Linked DNA regions of Homo sapiens. The protein of the gene in region 2 interacts with the protein of the main gene of each other region in a pairwise test. Each region holds a gene or a part of one and is shown on either strand. Other genes may lie near its edges.

Region 1 (7,146 bases), on a different chromosome or scaffold from region 2:
AGGAGGACTTCCACAATTTGATAAAGAGCATCTACAAAAAACCTACAGCTAACGTTGGTCCTTAATGATGAAAAATTGAATGCTCTCCCCGAAGATCAGCAACAGGGTAAGGATGTCAGCTCATACTACAACATAGTGCTGAACATTTTAGCCAATGTGATAAACCACTAACAAATAGGTAGAAAAAGAGGAAAAAAACCTTTTCTACATGCAGATGACATGATTATCTATGTAGAAAATCTCAAAGAATCTACCAAAAAAAAAAAGACAAAAACCTCCTAGAACTAATATGTTCAGCAAGGTTGCAAAATATAATTATACAAAAATTATTTCCATATACCAGCAATGAACTCATTCATGGGCAGCAAAATTAAAAATGCAATACCATTTAAAATCACCAAAAATAAGTAAATAAAATAATTAGGTGGAAAGCTAACAAAATGTGTATAGGACCTGTATGCTGAAAACTCCATAATGCTGATGAAAGACATTAGAAATAAATAAATAAATGGAGAGACATACTGTGTTCTTGAATTGGAAGACTCAGCATAGTAAAAATGTCAATGCTCCCCAATTGATATACAGGTTTAATGTAATTTCTATCAGAATCCCAGCAAGATATTCTGTAGATATAGATAACATTATTCTAAAATTTACATAGAAAGATAGAGAATATTACCAGGACAGCTGAAACAATTTTGAAAAAGAGTAAGTTGGGGCTGGGCGCATTGGCTCATGCCTGTAATCCCAACACTTGGGAGGCCAAGCTGGTAGGATCACTTAAGGCCAGGAGATTGAGACCAACCTGGGCAACATAGTAAGAACTCCATCTCTACACAATAATTTAAAAAATTACTTGGGCATGGTGGTCTCAGCTACTCAGGAGGTTGAGGGTGGAAGATTCCTTGAGCCCAGGCACTCAAGGCTGCAGTGAGCTATGATCATGCCACTGCACACCAGCTTGGGGGACAGAGTGAAACCTTGTGGCAAACAAACAAACCAATAACTTGGGAGGAATTAATAACAATCTACCTCAGAGGTCCCCAATCCCTGGGCCACAGACCGGTACTGGTTGTGGTCTGTTAGGAACCTGGCTGCACAGCAGGAGGTGAGCAGCTATGAATGAAGCTTCATCTGTATTTACAGCCGCTCCTCATTGTTCACATTACCACCTGAGCTCCGCCTCCTGTCAGACCAGCAGCAGCATTAGATTCTCATAGGAACAAAACCCTATTGTGAACTGTGCATGCGAGGGATCTAGGTCATAGGCTCTTTATGAGAATCTAATGCCTGATGATCTGTCACTGTCTCCCATCACCCCCAGATGGGACTGTCTAATTGCAGGAAAACAAGCTCAGGGCTCCCGCTGATTCTACATTATGGTGAGTTGTGTAATTATTTAATTATATATTACAATGTAATCATAATAGAAATAAAGTGCACAATAAAGGTATTGTGCTTGAATCATGCTGAAAACACTCCCACAACATCCATGGAAAAATTATCTTCTATGAAACTGTCTGTGGTGCCAAAAAGTTGGGGACCACTGGTCTACCTGATTTTAAGACTTTTTTTTTTGAGACAGAGTTCCACTCTTTTTGCCCAGGCTGGAGTGCAATGGCGCGATCTTGGCTCACTGCAACCTCTGCCTCCCAGGTTCAAGCGATTCTCCTGCCTCAGCCTCCCGAGCACACGCCACCACACCCAGCTAATTTTGTATTTTTAGTAGAGATGGGGTTTCACCATGTTGGCCAGGCTGGTCTTGAACTCCTGACCTCCAGTAATCCATCCGCCTTGGCCTCCCAAAGTACTGGCATTATAGGCATGAGCCACTGCTCCTGGCCTTAAGACTTACTATATAGGCATAGTAATCAAGACTGTTATTAACAGAGAGATAGACATGCAGATCAGTGAAATAGAACAGAGAATCCAGAAATATGTCCAACTGATTTTTTACGAAGTTGCAAAAGCAATTCAATGAGAGTCTTTTCACCAAATAGAGCTAGAACAATCAGACATCCACAGGCAAAAAAAAAAAAAAATGAAATCAAACCTAAACCAAAAAAAGACATCAAAACCTCTATCAAATCTCACACTTCCTATAAAATTCAACTCAAAATGGATCACAGACTTAAATGTAAAATAAAATTATGGAACTTTCAGAATAAAACACAGGAGAAAATTCAAAGAGTTTTTAGATTAGGCAACAAAAGTGTGATCCATAAAAGGAAACATGGATAATTCAGACTTTATCGAAATTTAAAACTTTTGTTTTGTGAAAGACTCTGTTAAGTGGATGAAAAGACAAGCCAAAAACTGGGAGAAAATATTTGCAAACCACATATTCAACAAAGGACTAGTAGGTAGAATATACAACTCTCGAAATTCAACAGTAAAAAAGCAAATCATCACATGGGGTGCAGTGGCTCATGCCTGTAATCCCAGCACCTTGGGAGGCCGAAGCAGGTGGATTGCTTGAGCTCAGGAGTTTGTGACCAGCCTGGGCAGCATGGTGAAACCCTGTCTCTACAAAAAAATCCAAAAAATTAGCTAGGCGTGGTGGTGCACACCTGTAGACCCAGCTACTGAGGAGCCTGAGCAGGGAGGATCACTTAAGCCCCGAGGCAGAGGTTGCAGTGAGCTGAGATCACACCACTGCACTCCAGCCTCAGTAACAAAAAAAGAAGGCTTTTTATTGTGAAAATTCATTTGTGTTGTTGTTGTTGGCCAAAGCTCCCCTAGAGGTTTCTGGTGTTGAAAAACAGTTTGCTATGATGAATCAAGTGCTGGGAGCTTTAGGGGCTGTGGTTTGAAGCAAAGCAGGTGAGGTCAAGTTTGAAAGACGCATAGGGAGGTCAGGAGGTTGAGGCCCAGGCTAGCTTGGCCATGGGCCTGGGGCTGGTTAGCTCAGGCTGATCACAGACACCACAATGACCATCAGGGAAATTTTCAGACATCCAGAGGCAGCCTCCTTTTAAGCTCCCTGGGCAAGGCTGAGGCCCAGGCGTCTCCGGGGCAGGGGCATGCATTCCATGGGTGGGTGTTGGGATCCTTGGTCCCTCACTGCTTTAGGCCTATTCCTCTGAGACACCTGGACAGTAGCTGGATGTGGAGGTATTTTCATTTCTCAGGATTTTGGCTGTTCAGGTGGCCTATTGTTTTGTTTTGTATATATGGTCTAAAGCAGTGGTTCTCACACATTCGTGTGCATCAGAATCACCTGGCCTGTTAAAACACACATTTCTGCTGGAAACCCCCAAAAATTCTGATTTCATAGGTCTGAGTAGGGCAGGGAATTTGCATTTCTAACAAGTTTCAAGGTGATGGGAAGCTTCTGGTCCAGGGACTACACTTTGAGAAGCCCTGGTGTAAAAAGGTACAGACGTGAAAACCAGAGGGGGGACAGCTCCTCCCCAGAGGAGGCACTGGGCAACTTCTCTTGTCCCTGCCTGGCACAGCTGAGGCCTGTGACTGGGGATTCCGACAGATCAGTGAGTCAACCACTGCACAGGCCCGAAGGGCAGAGGTGAGGGGGTTGGGGGCTGGGTGGGGGCAGCAATGAAGGGGAATGAAGTTTGAGCTTGAGGGCAAAGTCTCAGGGGGACCTAGAATGGGAGAACTGGATGTTTTGAGGGTGGAGAGGAGACCAGGGAAGACAGAGGTGCTGGTGCGGCTACTTGAGGAGGGGTAGCAGAGGAGGTCACTGTGGGGCTGGGAGAGCTGGGCTGTGAGGGCCCAGAGAGTCATGATGGGGTTAGGGGAGCAATGGGTGTGTATGTGATTCCTGAAGAAGTGAAGGAATTGAGATATGGGGGCTGGGAGCTGATGTGGCGTATGGGTGTGTATGTGATTCCTGAAGAAGTGAAGGGGTTGAGATGTGGGGGCTGGGAGCTGATGTGGAGTTCAGCTTTCAGGGGCTGAGAGGCCATGTGGGCTTTGGGGCCCAGGGAGGGGCGGTGGGAATGAGCTGGGGGTACCGGGGGCGACCTGAAGCGGGTGCGGGGGTGCCAGGGCGCCAGGGCAGAATCGCGCGTCCCGCGGCTCGGAGGAATACGGCGGGGGCCGGCCGCCAGGGCGGGGCAGGGGGCGGGGCGCAGCGGCGAGACCTGGCGGAGGGGGGAGCGGAGCGGAGTCCCAGCCGGAGCCCCAGCCGGAGCCCGATCCCTAGCCCTGCGGCCGCGCCTCCCTCGCCGTCCCCGCCTGGAGCCCGGCGCCGCCGCCGCCCTGCCGCCCCCGCCAGCCGCGCCGTGACGCGGGCATGAGCCTGCTCCGCGGCGCCGCTGAGCAGGCGCTCCTGGCCCGGGCCTCGGCGCCCAGGTAAATTGGGGGGCGTGAGGCAGGGAGGGGGACATAGGCCGCCCAGAGCCTGCAAGAGTCTCGGCGACTCCCACCCCTGAGGACCCTCAGTCACTTCCTGAACCTGAGGACGCTCCGTCCCATGGGACCTTCCTACTCTCGGGTGGGGAGCTTAGAGACCCGCCCCCCAAAAGCCAGTGCCTGGGCCCTGAAACTCCCTGCGCTCTCTCCACCCGCAGCTTTCCTCTCCGGGGGAGCCCAGGTCGCGAGCTGACCTCACCCGCACCCACACAAACCTCATCCGAGCAACCCAGGCCCTGCGCTCCCGGGCCTGCCCCCCCGGAAGGGGCATAACCCAGCCCCTGGCAGCTCCCAACCTTCTCTCTGCCTTCCTGCTCCTCCCCGGGGCCTCCTGTTCGCTCACCTCCTCCAAATTCCAAGAGATGATTTTCTGTACCCCAGCTGGCCCCCACTGCCGACCCCCTCCTGCCTATGGGGTTTCTCCCCACAGCCCAAACTCATGGCCAGCTGCCTCCTGTCCTTGAACCTTTCTCCATTGGCCCCCAAGGTCCTGTCCACCTTCTCCCCCAGGGCCCGCAAGGCCCTAGATCCAGTTACATGCTTTCTATTACTGAAAAGGGGCATGAGCCGAGGCTGGGCACCTGGGTGATGTGGCAGAGCAGGGGCTCTGTGCAGCCTGCCTGCCCCAAGCCATGGGGACACGTCAGTTGCTGGGGCGCTTCCGCTTGGATGGAGGGTGTGGGTTGGAGGGGTCTGATGGCCAGGGCAGCGAGGGGCCTGGCAGTATCTCTAGGAGACTCCACTTGGGCAGTGTGAGGTGGGCTTGCTTAGGGCAGGTTCTTTCCTGGACCCTTTCAGAGGGATGTGGCGCTGGTACAGGCTCTTCCTGCCCCCACCCCCAACTCTGATCCCAGGAGCTGTGCCTCCTCTCCCCAGTTGCTTGCCTTGCTGTGCTGGTACTGGTTACTCCCAGCACTTCCCTCCTGGGCAGGGCAGCAGGGCTGGGCATGACCTCACCCCACAACCCTGGCCAAGGTGGGGCCGCCCAACTAGGCCTGGCCTCGATGTCAGCAGCATGCTCTTCCCTGAGGCAGCTCTGAACCAAACTGCGGGTCTTGGGCACAGCTGGTTCTCCAGTAACAACAGCCTGCTGGCCATGCCAGTCAGCGCTGAGACCCAGGAGCTGGGAGCCCACTGTGGCTCACGCACCTCTGGAAGCTGAGCCAGGTCCAGCCAGATGGAGGCTGGTGGTGGTGGAAGAAAGGATGGGGAGGAGGACAAGTCCTGGAGAGAATTACGTGTTCAGCCCCCAAATATTGAGCATCTCCTTCCCACCGGGCACCATTCTGGGAGCTGGGATAGAGCTGTTAACTAGACAGACGAGGCCGAGCCACCAGGGAGCTGACATTCCAGATGTCTCTCTGTGGCCAGAAACAAATGGACAGATGTAAGAACAAGAAAATCCCATGGTGATGTGCGATGAAGACAGCCGCATCTGATGTTGTGAGAGAGGCTGACTAGTGGGGGTCCTTTGGTGAGGGTAGTCAGGGAAGGCCTCCTGGAGGAGGTGGATGAAGCAATGGAATGAACCATGAGCATGTGAGGGAACAATGTTGTAGGTGGGAAACAGCTAGTGCAGTGGTCCCTCGAGGGAGGGGTTTTGGCATGTTGAGGGGTGGGCAGGGGACCCAGGAGAACCAGAGTGGTACGGGGCCACAGCATTACTCTCCTGGCTTAAGGGTCTGGGGGACCATGGCTGTTCAGATGTCCCCTCCTTCTGCCGTCCCTGTCTGCCTAGATGGGTATTTGGTCTGTCTTTGCCATCCACCTTGATGGGACTCACCATGTTTTGGCCGGTGGCCCCTATGGGGATCTGTTGGGAGCACTCCCAGCCGGCCTCTGACAACAATCTTGGGGTGGGGTGGGGGCAGAGCAGCAGGTGATGGGAAATGGCTCTGGTGCTGGAGAGAATCCCACAGATCCAATCTTCGCCGTTGGATCGAGACAGCCAGACGACACTGAGATGGTGTCCAGGTAGGGCTGTTCCTGCAGCCCTGATAAGATCCGATCTGTCAGGGGTGGGGAGGCCCAGCCAGGCAGGCAGCCGCTCGCTCAGTCATTGGTTGCCAGCCTCAGCGCGTTTGTTCTGGAGCCAAAGCCTCCAGGCAGAATCCATGTGCGAGAGGGAGTGCTCAGCATGGCTGCCCTGTGGGGCAGGTGGGCAGTGAGGGCCCTGGGAGTCTCCCTACTCCCCGCCACCCCAGGACACCAGCCCTTCCTGGGGAGAGGAGCATTTTGGAGCTGGCTCTCCCTGCGCGGAAACCTGTGGTGGCCTGGCACCAGGCAGGTACTGTCCCTGGGTAAGCAGCAGTATTGGTACCAGGCTGGGAGGTGGGATGCGGGGGGCCCTTGCTCCCCTCCTCCCTCACTGGAACCCTGAGAGCGACTGCTGGACACCGTGCTTAGCTGGGAGCTCGGAGCTCACAGTGCTGGGGAAGGACCCAAGACCTCAGGTCCTCTCAAAGTAGCAAGCATTCTTCCTGCTGCAGGCCTGTTGGGGACAAGGGCCTGAGGGACAAACAGGGCAGGGGCTACTTCAACCCAATTCCTGGCCTGCCTAGCCTCAGCTGCCCTCCAATTTTTGTATTTTTTTAATTGATTTTTTTGAAATTTTTTAGAAACAGTCTCACTCTATCACCCAGGCTGGAGTGCAGTGGCTTGATCATAGCTCACTGCTACCTGGAATTCCTGAGCTCAAGTGATCCTCCCACCTCGGCCTCCCCAGTAGCTGTGACTACAGGCACGTGCCACATGCCCAGCTTATTTTTT
Region 2 (7,025 bases):
AGTGGGCAGCATTGTTGGGCAGGGGAAGGAGCCAGGGTTGGGGAGGTGGCAGGAATGGAGAGCGCGAGTGGGTGAACTACTACAGAGCCCCAGGTGGTGGCAGAGATGGGCTGGAAGGCCAGCGCCTCGGCAGGCTCGGGCAGGGGAACAGCTCCATCCAACATGCCTATTACAAGCTCACTCTTGGGAGGCCATGGGAAGGTAGGCAGGGAGAGACAAGAGGGACAGCAAGGGCTCTAGAAGTCTACGAGGAGAGGGCGGCGAGCCAGGCCTCAGCCATTCACTAAGCTGGGTACAGTGGGTCTGGGGATGGCTTAGCGAGGGTGAGCTGAGATGGGGGAGCTGACTGGCTGCAGCCTGGACAACACCAGACAACGCATTTGGTGCGTGTCCCACCGCAGGGCTTGGTGGCATGTGCACTCACAAAGTGCTGGCTTCCACCTCGTAGGTCTCCTTAATGTCCACTTTTGTAGAAGAGTCATCTGTAAGGAAGATGCAGAAAACTAAGATGACTTTCAGGGACATAGTGGGGAGGCATTTTGAGTCCAGCCCACTGCTGTATTTACAGGAGACAGCGGCAGCCCTGGTCTTCAGGGACCCTGCTGTCCTTCATCAAGCTGCCCGCACTCTGGAATGTGCTGTGTGCCTCAGGGCAGGGCTTCCCAGACTTGAGCCCACATACACCCCTCCTGGGGATCCTGGCAAATGCAAATCCTGCTGCACGCTGGGCTGAAGTACACATTCACCCATGGCCAGAGCCAGCAAAAGCTGTCTTTGAGGTATCACTCATGTGCCAGGCAGGGTTACTGGGGCTTTGTCTCCTTTAACCCAGGCATATATCACCCCTGTCTTCACTTGTAGATTAGGAAGTAAGTCAGAGAGTTACACAACTTGGCCCAGGTCACACAGCAGAAACCACAGTCAGAGCCGGGCAGTCTGACTCCCCATCTGAACCCAGTGAAGCCACAGGATTCCCAAGACCCTCAGACCAGCAAAGGGTCTGGCACTGAGCAGCTACATTCAACAAATGACATTAGGTCCGTGTGACACAGACTGTAATTTGCTATTTCAAACCTGAGGAAGGCACATTTCACACCAGCACAGACAGTGAGTGAAAGCTTTGTGAGCGAGGCAGGTGAGTGTTGCAGAGAGGGTAAGATTTTAAATGAAGCAGAGGGAGAGGCTGAGAGATAAAAGGGACATTTCTGGCACTAGGAACAAGGTAAGTATGGAGGGCAGAATAATGACCCCCCAAAGACGTCCACATCCTAATCCCTGGAATTGGTGAATATGTTACCAATTTCAAAGGGGAGTAAAGGATGCTTATCAGCTGACCTTGAAATAGGGAGATGACCCTGGAGAATTTGGGTGGGCTCAATGTGATTGCAAGAGTCCTGAAATGCAGAGGAAGCTGACAGTCAAAGGAAGATGTGACTGTGGAAGAGGTCACGTGGCTGGCTGTGAAGACAGAGGAAGGGCCATGAGCCAAGGCATGCAGCCGCCTTTAGGAGCTGGAAAGACAAGGAAATGGCTTCTTCTCTGGAGCCTCCAGAAGGAACCAGCCCTGTGGACACCTCAACTTTAGCCCAGTGGGACCCACAATGGACTCTTAACGTATAGAATTATAAGAGAATATATTTCTGCTGTTTATGCTGCTATGTTTTGGCATAGCTGTAGTAGAGAGAACACAGCAAGCAAAACTCCAAGGCAGAAATAAGCAGAGAATGCATGCATGTGCGTAACGTGTGCACATCTGTGTGTGGATCCCACGGGGAGGTCTTGGGAAAGGCTGGCAGGGGAAGAAGCCCACTTCAGCAACCCCCAGTAGTGGTGTTACATGATGTGTTTACTTTATGAAAATTCATTCAACTGTACATGTATGACTTGTGTACTTCTCAGTAAAAAAAAAATTATTAAAGAAAAAAAGGCCCTTTGGGAATTTTAAAGCACAAGGGCCAAACCAGTCGCACTAAAACTGAATGTTTAATTACAGCTCGATAAATCATCTGCTACTCATATGGTACATTCCTCTGGATAAGCTGTTGACTTCTAAGCCTCCACTTCCCCATCTCTAAAATGGGGATGAAGATTGCACCTATCTCGCTGGGCCACCGAGGACTAAATGAGATAGAGAGGATGCCTGAGAGCTCAGCAGCTGTCTCTCTGCAGCTGCTGGGCCAACACAAGGCGTGTAGTGCCCACAAAGGGCTCTGGCACCAGCAGCAAGAAAGGGAAGAAGGAGGCACTGAGGAGCAGCCCTCACACCAGCACAGGCTTCTCCACCATTTACTCTCTTCACTGAGATGTGCGAGTTACTGGGGAAAGGGCAGAGGGCTGGGACTTATCTCCGTAAAAAGAAGAAATTGTACTCAACAAGCCGCACTGTTTCCAACAGCCTTTTTTTTTTTCTTGGTATTTTTTAGTAGAGACAGGGTTTCTCCATGTTGGTCAGGCTGGTCTTGAACTCCCGACCTCAGGTGATCCGCCCGCCTCAGCCTCCCAAAGTGCTGGGATTACAGGCATGAGCCACCACACCCAGCCTCCAACAGCTTTTTATGCACCTCAATTTATATAACCCATTAATCCTCAATAAGTAATACATCTGAAAAACAGATGATGTTTTTGAAGACTTAACTCAAGTGAGCTTGCTGATGAAGTGTTTTCAATGGACTAACAGACTCCTGAAAATGCTGTGTGGGCCATGCAGGAAGAGACAGCTCTGGGGTACCTTCCATTCTTCCCCATCTGCCACTGCTCCACCACTGCCAGCTGGCCTCCCAGGGCAGCCTGAGCAGCTTCCCATGGGTCTGGCCATGGTCCTGGAAGGAGTTTCACATTAAGAGCAGCCATAGTCTGGGCATACTGAAAAGGAGGCTCCCCAGACCCACTCTCAGCCTCCCCAATTCCATCACAGGCCCCAGTGCTAGGAGCCTTCTCCAAGCTCTTTGTTCCGAGTTAAGTGAAGTGACTTTAGCCACAAGTGGTTCCAAAAAAGTGTTCACAGACCCCAAATTTATTCCAGGAAGCCATAGCGCTGACCTGGTGCAACTCTCTCAAGGACAGGTGACACTTCTGCCTTCATGAAACCCTATGGGCTAATGTGAACAGCAAAGTCTGGAAACAAAAGGCCACCATGTCACGGCAGTAACTGCGCTATTCCAGGAGTAACTCATGGGGAGCTGGGGGCCACTGCAGTAGCCCCTCCTGTCCCTGCTCCCACCCGCTGCCCACTCTCACTCAACATACCGCTGTGCAGGGACAGGTGGTGGGTCGGGGTAGAGGCCCCATCAAATATCGCTCTGTCCAGAAAGTCGATGGTGGACTCCGTGTAAACAACCTGGAAGACCTGGCCTAGCAGACAGCAAAGCTCCTCCGCAGCGACCTGCAGTGGGGGACAGCAGCTGCTCGGTCAGTCTGGCTGGAGACTGCGCCTTCCCAGGCGGCTTCCAGGATACCTGGGGCAGCCCAGATGCTCAATAAACATGAATGAAGAGTGGATACCAGAATGTGTCCCTCTGCCTTTCACTGACCCAAAGGGGTGTCAAAAGAGAGACCCAGCCAACTGCCCCAGGACTCTATCTAGGACTGCCATGTGGCCCAGGGGTGGTATTGCAAGTGTGAGGGGACTGTGCAGGGCACAAGTGTTAGCTGCCAGTCCAACGTCTTCTTTCCATTAACCTGACCTATCAACACCCTCACAACCCTATCCCAGCCCAGGAAAGAGGTGAGAGGAGATACCATCAGTATCACAGCCCACCTGGAGGCATTTCTAACAGCTATAAAACAGTTTTATAACAGTGTGCTGTCTAAAGCAGAGGCTCTCAACTGGGGCAATTTTTGTACCCCTCCCAGGGGACATGTAGCAATATCTGGAGACATTTTCAGCTGTCACAAGGGGAGAAGCTGGGATGCTGCTCAACACCCTACAGTGCACAGGGCAGCCTCCCACAATGGAAAATTATCCGGCTAAAAATGACAGTAGCACCAACACTGAGAAATGCTCATTAGAGGATATTTAAGGTGGGTGGTCACTAGCATCCATTTTACAGATATGGAAATTAAACAAAGGTGTTAAGTGACTGCCAAGGCCCCACAGCTATTGGGTGGCTGAGGGGGCCCCAAATCCTAGCCTACAAGGGCCCAGCCCTTGGCTCTTCCAGGTTGTGAGGAATCTGCAAGCACAGTCCTTAACACCAGGCAGGTCTAGGATGCACAGGTGACCGCCGCTGCCCGCCCATCAGCGTGGGGGCACCTTGAAGAATGATAAGCAAAAAGCTCAGTGGCCAGGTGGTCTCAGAGAAGTTGCTGGGGGTTGGAGGTAGGAGGGTCAGAAGGCACAGGGGTGGGAACCGGTGGGGAGCCTGGGCCTGGGGCAGGACCTGGGATGCAGTCATGCGCAGAGGAGCTGTGGGCAGGGCCAGGATGGGGGCAATGCCTGGGGCAGGGTTGAGCAGAGAGAGGTGGGGCTGGGTGGAGACTAGGGTGAGGCAGGGACAGGCAATGGCAGAGGAAGTAGCTGGGGCACCCAGCAGTGCCCAGCACTGTGCTGGGTGTGGCCAGGGTGGGGCTGGCCATGAGCAGGGTCTGGGAGGAGCCAGTTCTGAGTAAGTGGGGCGAGAAAGTCTCACCTTGCTCTCTGCAGCCAGGATGACCAGGCAGCATGCCTCCACGGGCCCAACTGCACTCTCCGACAGGGAGCCTGCACTGAGGCCTCTGGAACTTTCCGCACACAGACTCTGGCTGGGGGAGATCCCTGGGTCCTGGGCTGAGAAGTCAACACCATCTCAGTTTAGCACAGTGGAAGGGCAGGCATGGGGGCACTTGAGGAAACAGCTGAGGCCGCCATGGAAACAGGCTGAGAGGACCTTTACCTGGCTCAGGCACCCACAGAACGACTCAGGTGAAGGGCCTGCACCAGACACACTTCGCTTCTCTAAATAAGGGTGGGAACACGCGACCCCTGAGCTCCAAGGGCACCAGAGCTGCATGTCATCCTGCAGTTTCACACGCTTCAAGTTCATATACAACAGACCACATATACAACCCTGAGAACAGTCACCTCCAGGAGGTTTCCATGTGTTCTGGGGAGTTCCCTTCTTACAGATGGGTAAACTGAGGCATGGGAAAGTGAAAGGCCTGGCCTGAGGGCGTGTGAGTTGCACTGTCCACATGGCAATCTAGACGGTCAGACCCCAGTGCCCTTGTTTCTAACATCCTACCCATTGCCTCCCTAGACAAATGAGGTTCTCCTGAAATACATGGAGTAACTCAGTGGTTTTCCTGATGGCAGAAGTGAGGCCAATCCCCAGGAAGCAGGGCTCTCACCATCAGTTCGGACCACCCTGGGAGGACTTCAAGACTGAAAACAAAACCTAGAAGTGCCACTAGTGCCAGGGTGTCAGAGGGCAGGCCAGCCTCAGGAGGGAGAAGAAGGCCGTCCCAGGCCACATGCAAAGTTAGCGCATGCACAGAGACAAGGGCTCCATAAGAAACTGTACCTCAAACCCCACAGTGAGACTCCTGGGGCTGCTCTGTCCCTATGGCAGCCACTGGCCACAGGACTACTGAGTATGCAAAATGTGATGAGCCCACATTGAAATGTGTGAGTGCAAACTATACACAGGGTTTCAGAGGTAGGCAAAGAAAGAATGCTATGTAGCTCAACGATTTTTATATTGATTATATACTGATGTAATAATGTTTTGGGTACGGAGGGGTAAATAAAATATATTATTGAAAATAATTGGCCAGGCGCAGTGGCTCATGGCTGTAATCCCAGCACATTGGGAGGCCAAGGCGGGTGGATCACCTGAGGTCAGGAGTTCAAGACCAGCCTGGCCAACATGGTGAAACCCCATCTCTACTAAAAATACAAAAAAATTAGCTGGGCGTGGTGGCTCATGCCTGTAATCCCAGCTACTCGGGGGGCGGAGATTGCAGTGAACCAAGACCACACCATTGCACTCTAGCCTGGGCAACAAGCACCAAACTTGTCTCAAAAAAAAAAAAAGGCGGGCACAGTGGCTCATGCCTGTAATCCCAGCACTTTGGGAGGCCAAGGTGGCGGATCACAAGGTCAGGAGATCAAGATCATCCTGGCTAACACGGTGAAATACTATCTCTACTAAAAATACAAAAAATTAGCCAGGCGTGGTGGCAGGAGCCTGTAGTCCCAGCTACTCAGGAGGCTGAGGCAGGAGAATGGCGTGAACCTGGGAGGCAGAGCTTGCAGTGAGCTGAGATCACGGCACTACACTCCAGCCTGGGCAACACAGCGAGACTCCGTCTCAAAAAAAAAAAAAAAAATTTACTGGTTTCCCTTTACTTTTTTTCTTTTTTTGGTATGAGTTTGGTAAGAAATCTCTACCTTTTAAACATTTTTAAATGTTGGCTCCCTGGTGTGTGCCTGTGGTAGTTCTCAAGGAAGCAGGGTGGGCAGCCTAAGGATGCGGGCAGCGAGTTGTGTGCCTCTCCTATATCATCCAGGAAGTGCTACCACGGGTGCACGGGTGACCCTGCCCCATCTGGCACCAACTCAAGTCATCACCCTCCAAGCAGCTCCTGCCACATGGACCCTATTGCAGCTAGACCTGGCCCCCAACTTCCCCACTCCTGTGCTATCCCAAATACCAGCGTACTTTTGGTCCAAAGAGGCACAGAGACTTGCTTGCACATAGCAGGCACCAAGTAAACGTTAGCTATTCACCTGCTAGTCTCTTATGCTGAGAACTCTGGATGCCTAATCCTAAATACAGCATGGCGGCCCAGTGCAGTGGCTCATGCCCATAGTCCCAACACTTTGGGAGGCTAAGGCAGGAGGATCGCTTGAGGCCAGGAGTTCAAGACCAGCGTGGGCAACATAGAGAGACTTCATCCTTACAAAAATTTTTAAAATATTTTAAAAATTAAAAAATAAACACAGCACACCTTATGTAACACAGGGGACACACAACTGCTCCGGTGCATCCACAAAAACAAGGAAGATGGCCCCCAGGACACAGGGATTCACTCTCTTCCTTTAAATC
Region 3 (7,025 bases), on a different chromosome or scaffold from region 2:
AATCCACCCACCTTGGCCTCCCAAAATGCTGGGATGACAGGCATGAGCCACTGCGCCCAGCCTCAATGTAATATTTTATTGCCGTTCAAAGAGCTCTGCTATTCAAGCAGAAGGATGCTTTACGAGACAGACAAGATGGTCGTTTGGCTTCTTTCAGCAAAGACAGGGCTGGTCCTGCTTCCTCTGCAAACCGCAGCAGTGGCCTGGCCTGATCGTCTCTTGGAAGCTGTCTTTAGATGAGCCAAGGCTTTCAAAGTGATATCTGACTGCAGGTTTAGATCTATCGCTATTAAATCCAGGGGGAGGAAATCAATGCTGAGTTACCACTTCCTTTCCTTAACCTTGGCAAATGCTGAGCCGTGCTGGGCTCATGCTCAGACATTCATCAGCACGAGCTGATAGGTGACTTGGGCCTTAGCGAAGATGGGCTCCAAGGCCCGTCCAGCCTCAGGGACCAGGGAAGTGCCAGGGTGGTGGGACAGCTACTTGCAAACAGCCAGCAGCGTCCTTCCTCTTGCTCCCCTCTTCCTCTCTCATGGGAGGGCCCGCCCGTCATGCAGGGGCACCATGCCCATGGTGCCCCTCCCCTGAACAGTCTCAGGCCAACCCAAGCTCCCTCCAGTGGTCCTTGACCCCAGGCACAGCAGATGGCCCCCTGACCACCTTCCTCTGGGGGCCTCTGCTTTCTCTGGCATCTGAATCACCTGCGATTGTCACAGGCCCCTCAGAGACACGGCCCCCTCTGGGGCTTCTTGGACACACTTTGCTGGGCAGTGTTGATGCCTGGGACCAAACAGGAAGGGAAGGCACCTGAGGTCCTCTTCAAGTGACTGTGTCTGCAGCGGCCTCCCTCGTGGCACTATTGCAGCAGTGTGGAGGGGCCCTGCTGGATTTTCACAGTGTTGTTTTTCTGAGAACGGCAGGAAGGGTGCTTTTTCTGAGAAACTGCTGTCTTCTATGTCTCTGAGGGACACTGAGGAAGAGGTGCCGGGTCTCCCATGGCCAGCAGCAGAGAGAGGCACACGGCCCCAACACAATCCTGAAGATAAATACAGAATGGGACCTATTCTTAAGAGACCTGAGTCCCTTCCGTAGCCCTGATCCCTTGTGAAATTCTTCATATATCACTTGACCTATTCACATCCTAACCTTCTCTTTTATTTTGTCCTTCATAAAAAAAAAACTTTTCCATGTTATAAATTATAAATGATAGACTAATGTACACAGGGTTGCTGGGGACGCACATGGAAATTACATTGTTCCACACTGAAATTACATGATATTATTCACTTGTGAACTGTAGTAAAACAAGAAAGGAGATGACATACAGCAACACTGAAACGAGCAGAGAGGTGAGTAACCGTGCTCATCTTTTGCCTGTTGTTTAATTAGAAGGAAATCTCTATTCTCAGAAAAAAATAGTCTGAAAGAAAGTTTTGGAATTAGCAATAATTTAACACCCAGTAAAATGCCCTTCAATTAATTCTACCCTTCCAATGCTGCCAGCTCGCATGGGCCACCTGGACCCTGCCTATTAACACCTTCGCAGTCACACAAGACGGGACCTCAAGATAAGCTCTCTCCTGACCCTACCTCGGGGGCCATAAAACGCCAGTCCTGGATGCACCCCCTCTGCCACAGCCACCGCACGGCCCCCAGGGAGTTTGGGGATCGTGGAAACAGGTCCTTCTGCACCAGAGAAATCAACAAAAACAGGGCACCCTGGGATTCTTAGGGTACAGATATCTGTTTGGAGCACTCCTGTTCTGGTATCAGTGAAACAATACTTTTAGAAAATAGTAACATGAGCCCACGAAGGAGAGGGAGTCGCCAAGCACACACTGAGGCGGGGGTGCTGAGCACACATCTATGGGCCGCACGAGGCTTCGGGAGCCCCTAGATGACCTTTGCTCAGAGGGTCCTCGGCCATTCTGTATTTACAGTCTGTATTTCCACGTGTGACTGAGCTATCACGGGACCTGATGGTGGGCTTCTCGTTCTTCCTCTATTACTTTTTTATAAAGTGAAACCTCAAGCGGACTTCAGTTAATCATGTTTTTAAAAGATGCTGTTTCAACTAAAGAATATAGAAGAGTATATGCAGGTTTGGGGGAAGCGGTAGGAAACACTTGCTGGAGAAGAAATGTTCACCAGACAGAAAACAAGGAATGCGAAATGATCACATCTTTCTCTCCTAGCTTCCCATCTACGCATGCAGATTATCATGAACGAGAGGAAAGCCAGGCGGCTGGGCATATGTTGAAGATGTTGACTAGTTAGAAACCAGTATATATGTAGTATGCAATTTGGGATTATTTGATTTCAGGAAAATTAATCCTCAATGAAGACACTGTTCGCCCATTGGTGTCAATGATGTGAACAGAGACGTGTAGATGCCCGATTTGAGAAAGAGGAGTATGCCTTCTCCTCCTTCCTTTCCCTTCCCTTCCAATTTGCGGTATTTTAGGCATTTCCCAAAGAAATGATAACTGCCTTATTCTGTTATGTATCAAGACAAAACAGTCTCCCTGAGACTGAGATTTAAAGTTCACACAAACTTTCCGGAAGGGACCCAGTCGGTATAGGTTTTGCCAACCCTGCAGGCTAGCTAGCTTGCGCTGCGCCTGTGCACTCTTCCGCCGAGCTAAAAGTCTGAGTTGTGGAAGTAAAGGACAAGTCGCAGGTCCAGGGAGTCCACGCAGGCAGCCAGCTTGCCACTCCGAGCCCTCTGAGCACCGGCCACACGAACCACTCAAAGAGCAGAGATGAAGGAAAGGAAACGGTACTTGTAGATCTCGTGATTCAAAGAAAACGCTGCCTGCTTGCATTTTCACATACAGAATATGCTAATTCAAAGTAGAACAGACAAAGAAAGCTGCCGTGGCAGCAGAGCCCGAGATTGTACATGACTGGCCTGTGCTTTCCTTTAGGAGGTTGTTCATGCTCCAAGCTGTCCCTCATGGAGCCCCTGCCTCGGAAGCGGGCCAAAATCTCTCCACCCTTCAGCAGGGGCATCTACTTACAGAGATTTAACAGAAATGCTAGGGTGGCATTTTGTCTGGATAGCGACAGAAAAACAGTAGTAACGACGAAAGTTTCAACATTTTTTTCTCCACGGGGAAGAGAGCAAAAGGATCTCTAACCCTCCCCTCTCACAGCAAAAGGCCAAAAAGTTGCCCTAACCCCTCCTGGGGGGAGCTGCTCTGCCTGGTGCTCCGGAAAGACTCTGCCTGTGACCACACCACAGACCTCAGCCACAGGGTGGGGTCTGATGTTTAGTCAAGGTCGAAGGGTTAATACAAATCAAGGGGTTTGCCCAAATCTTTCCCGTCAGTCGCACACCAGACCTGCACATCCAGAGACACAGAGGTGAACCGTCTGTCAAATTAGACAGTGAGAATTAGGACTCTAATGCCAGACCACATAACAAAATTTACCATTTCCTCCCAGAAGATACTGATGGCTATTTTTTTAAGGCAGAATGTGAACTAAAAAGACAGGAGTATTTTCCAGGATAATCGAATGTGATAACCGAAAGCTCTTCTGAGTTCAACCCTGTCTTTCATTTCAGTGAAGGGAAAATCTGAACTAAAGAAAGGAGAGATGTGTCCAAGTTTAAAGGCACTGCTCTTCGGGTCTGAGAAGTAAAACTATAGTTCTCCATGAGGCTTCGACAGAAGCTGGGTCATCTGAATCTTTCCCTGGTCAAATAACAGAGGAAAACAATATTAGGATAGAAAACCGCTCAGTGAGGGACAGCCCCGGTAGACAAGCAGACACTGCACTCAGCTCACGCAGCCGCGCTCTCTCATCTTCATCACCACAGGATCATCATATTATCACACCACAGTTGAGGATGAAATAGCCCAGATATCTGAAGCACGTCAGATACCGTTTGGGTTCAAAATGACTCTATTTTTAACTAAGCACTAAAACATTTTCCTCATGCTGGAATCAAGTTATGTGTTGGCTTTTCCAATTTCAGATCCAAGTCTCTTTTCGAAGTGACAACCATTAATAATCGCTGAAGAGAAATCACACTGTGCCTCAGTTTACAAGAGCTTAAAATTCACCTTGTTAATGCTACCGCCCTCATTTCCAAATCAGCATTCAGGTAAGGCATAGTTTAATATCACTCAATCTCATCCAAAGGGTTACTACCAAACAAAAACAGAAAATATGTTTCTAAACAATTATTCATTAAAAATAACTATAACTGGGCTTAGGGTTTGAGTTTCTCTCTCTCTCTCTCTCTCTCTCTCTCTCTCCATCTCTCCCTCTCTCCTTCTCTCTCTCCATCTCTCCCTCTCTCCCTCTCTCTCTCTCTCTCTCTCCCTCCCTCCTCTGCTATATCCTCTCCCTCTCACTGCTTATGGCTCCAAATACTAAAACTTCAATCTCTATACTTCTTGGCGAATAATTTTTATAAATCATTGGCTTTAGAATTGTGTGTGTATGCTTAATGAAAGTTAATATAAAATTAGTATCTTAAAAAGCAAATATAACACAGGTATCAGTTTAAGGTAGATATTTCCCAAAATTTTGTGTAAAATATTTTCTTTATTAGTATAGGAATAAATGTATTGCTATTATAATTGGTATTTCACCTTTCATATTTCTGGGATACTATTCTTTATTTAAGACTTACAGGGAACCACTTCTAATTAGTTATATATTGGAAATATATTGAGATTCCTCAAATGGCGTCAGAAAAAATATGTGGAGTTTTGCTCAAGTCACATTTTTAGTTTATTACTCTGAGATAAATCTTAGTAGTAATTTCTTAGATAATTTGCTTATCTAAATATATAGATTTAATACTTTTGTAGAATATCTTTTTTATTTTAATTTTGAGATAATTATAGATTCACATGAGGTTGCAAGAAATATTATACAGAGATTCTCATATCTTCACTCCCTTCTCCCAGTGATGACATCTTGCAATTATCATAATCAGGAAACTGGCGTCAATATCGTCCCCAGACCTCATTCAGATTTCACCAGTTTTACATACACTCGTGTGTACATGTGTGTGCACGTGCATGTGCGTGTGTGTGTGTGTGTTTAGTGCTATGCAATTTTATCACGTGTAGACTCAGGTGACCATGTGGAATATCTTTTTAATCAGTTTCTGTTTGTAGTGTTTCATCTTGCCTTTACGTTTGAAAGCATCCATGTCTGTATCTCTTAGATTCTGTTTCTCCTTTATGGTTTTCCAGTCCTTGGCTACAGTAACTTATTCATCTCTTCTTTGAATTTTATTGCCTCATTTGTGAACTCTCTGCTAGCGGAGAGTTCTGTATTTGGTTTGCTTTTTGCAGCACATTTATCCTTTCCCAGGAAAAGACACAAACATAAACAGACATTCCAGCATGCATTCACAGGGTTTTTAAAGACACCAGTGAGAATAGATTAATATAAATACTAAGCTTAAAAACCGTCATAAAAGTTCAGCCTTTAAAATTGGCTTATTAAAATATTTGTTTTTTTTAAAGCCCAGATTTAAACTAAAGTTATGAGTTATAGTGCTCTGCTCAGAAAGAGTTTACTTTATGTGTGTGGTGTTTTTTTTTCTTTTTTTAAATTTTTTTGCCAGGCAAAAGGAATCCGGCATCTGTGCCGTCTACCCAGAACAGAGTGAAGCAAGGATGACAAGAACATGGTTCAGCTCAAGATCTGTATGAAAATATGAGTTTCAGGAAACCTCAGTGAAGTATTCTATCTCAAATGGCCTCAAAGAGCCACTGAAGTCTGAGGAATTCCCTCTCCAGCAAGATGAGTAGCAAGACTTCCCTGATGCAAGGCCGAAAGGACTGCTGATATTTAAGGGGAAAGACCCACATTAACAGGTCAAATCCCTACATCAGATCTTATTGATGGGTATTTTGTAACCAAACATTGCTTATATTCCAGGGAGCTCAGCCTTTCATTCTACTTCTTCTAGGCAAGCAAAAGCTCCATTGGGATTCTGCATTTCTGTTCTTCTCCACGAAGAACTGATTTTCTAGCATCCTGAATACAGCAGTTAACAAACACCTATGAGAAGTAAATTTTCAGGAGGGAGGAAAAGGCTCACATATATTAGATGGTGAAGGGGTCATGCAATTTCTTCAAAGTAGCTAAAAGTTCTCAGAAAAAAAAAAGTTTGTTGAGTGAGGAAATCTACTGAAAATCTGTGCACACTATGCAGAAGTTAGAGAAGATGTTTTCTTTAACCACACAGCAGGGAACAGGACAAATGTCTGATAAGTAATGGTCACCTTCCCCCACCCTCCAAGCCAGGTGTCTGGGACCCTGCTCCGAAGACTCAGGCATTTAATGAGAATACTAAAAAAATCCTTTTGAGATTTTTCTATTAGATGAATCCAACTGACTGGACAAAGACACCTGATTTATTGTCTAATTGTGCTTTTAAATACCAGGCCAAAGAAGAAAGGCAGGATAGATATCGGCAGCACCCGCACTCCACCATCTCTTGCGTTTCTCTTCCTTTCAGAGGACAATTTAGGCTTTGTGCTGCTGTTGCTGTTAGTCTTGACAGTTTTCTTCACATACGTGAAAACATCCCACATCAAACATTAAAATCACTTACAATGTACTGAAATGTCTAGAGATTCTTTGCTGATGCATATAATTAATGCTTCTTAGAAATGCTACAAATAAAAACAAATGCTGTTTAGCAACATTTTCAGGAAATCAAACCAATTATAATCGTATTGATCTTATAGGGAATAATGAGTTAAAGACAAAAAGAATGACAAGATGTCTGCCTAACGTGCCTGATAAATAAAAACAAGGTGTGTCCAGAATCATTCATGGATAAAATTTTTCCATATTTCTTTTCTCTTCTTTTAGAGTATCTATTTAATGAAACTAGCTTGTTTGAACTACTCAGTTATAGTCCAGTATGTAAAAATAAAAATAAATAGGCTCCTTATAGATCATCAGCTCTCCCACTAACTGTGTAATTATCTATTATATTTTCAAGGGCTTTTTTCCAAACAAGCTCTTGGCACTGTTTTTAT

The links. The genes of interacting proteins can lie anywhere in the genome.
Region 1: the proteins of CCM2 (region 2) and DOK4 interact in binary tests that used the Homo sapiens proteins (3 or more experiments, as listed by UniProt).
Region 3: the proteins of CCM2 (region 2) and TWIST2 interact in binary tests that used the Homo sapiens proteins (3 or more experiments, as listed by UniProt).

Annotation. Positions count from the first base shown.
Region 1 is NC_000016.10:57,483,476-57,490,621, reverse strand, and holds the start of DOK4 (docking protein 4), read left to right. Parts: upstream 1-4,128; 5' UTR 4,129-4,317; intron 4,318-7,146. UniProt on the Homo sapiens protein: DOK proteins are enzymatically inert adaptor or scaffolding proteins. They provide a docking platform for the assembly of multimolecular signaling complexes.
Region 2 is NC_000007.14:45,066,183-45,073,207, reverse strand, and holds part of CCM2 (cerebral cavernous malformations 2 protein), read right to left. Parts: intron 4,766-7,025; coding exon 4,629-4,765; intron 3,383-4,628; coding exon 3,247-3,382; intron 2,820-3,246; coding exon of another isoform or gene 2,671-2,819; exon of another isoform or gene 1,459-2,670; coding exon of another isoform or gene 1,336-1,458; intron 483-1,335; coding exon 425-482; intron 1-424. UniProt on the Homo sapiens protein: Component of the CCM signaling pathway which is a crucial regulator of heart and vessel formation and integrity. May act through the stabilization of endothelial cell junctions. May function as a scaffold protein for MAP2K3-MAP3K3 signaling.
Region 3 is NC_000002.12:238,850,692-238,857,716, reverse strand, and holds part of TWIST2 (twist-related protein 2), read right to left. Parts: intron 6,654-7,025; exon of another isoform or gene 1-6,653. UniProt on the Homo sapiens protein: Binds to the E-box consensus sequence 5'-CANNTG-3' as a heterodimer and inhibits transcriptional activation by MYOD1, MYOG, MEF2A and MEF2C. Also represses expression of pro-inflammatory cytokines such as TNFA and IL1B.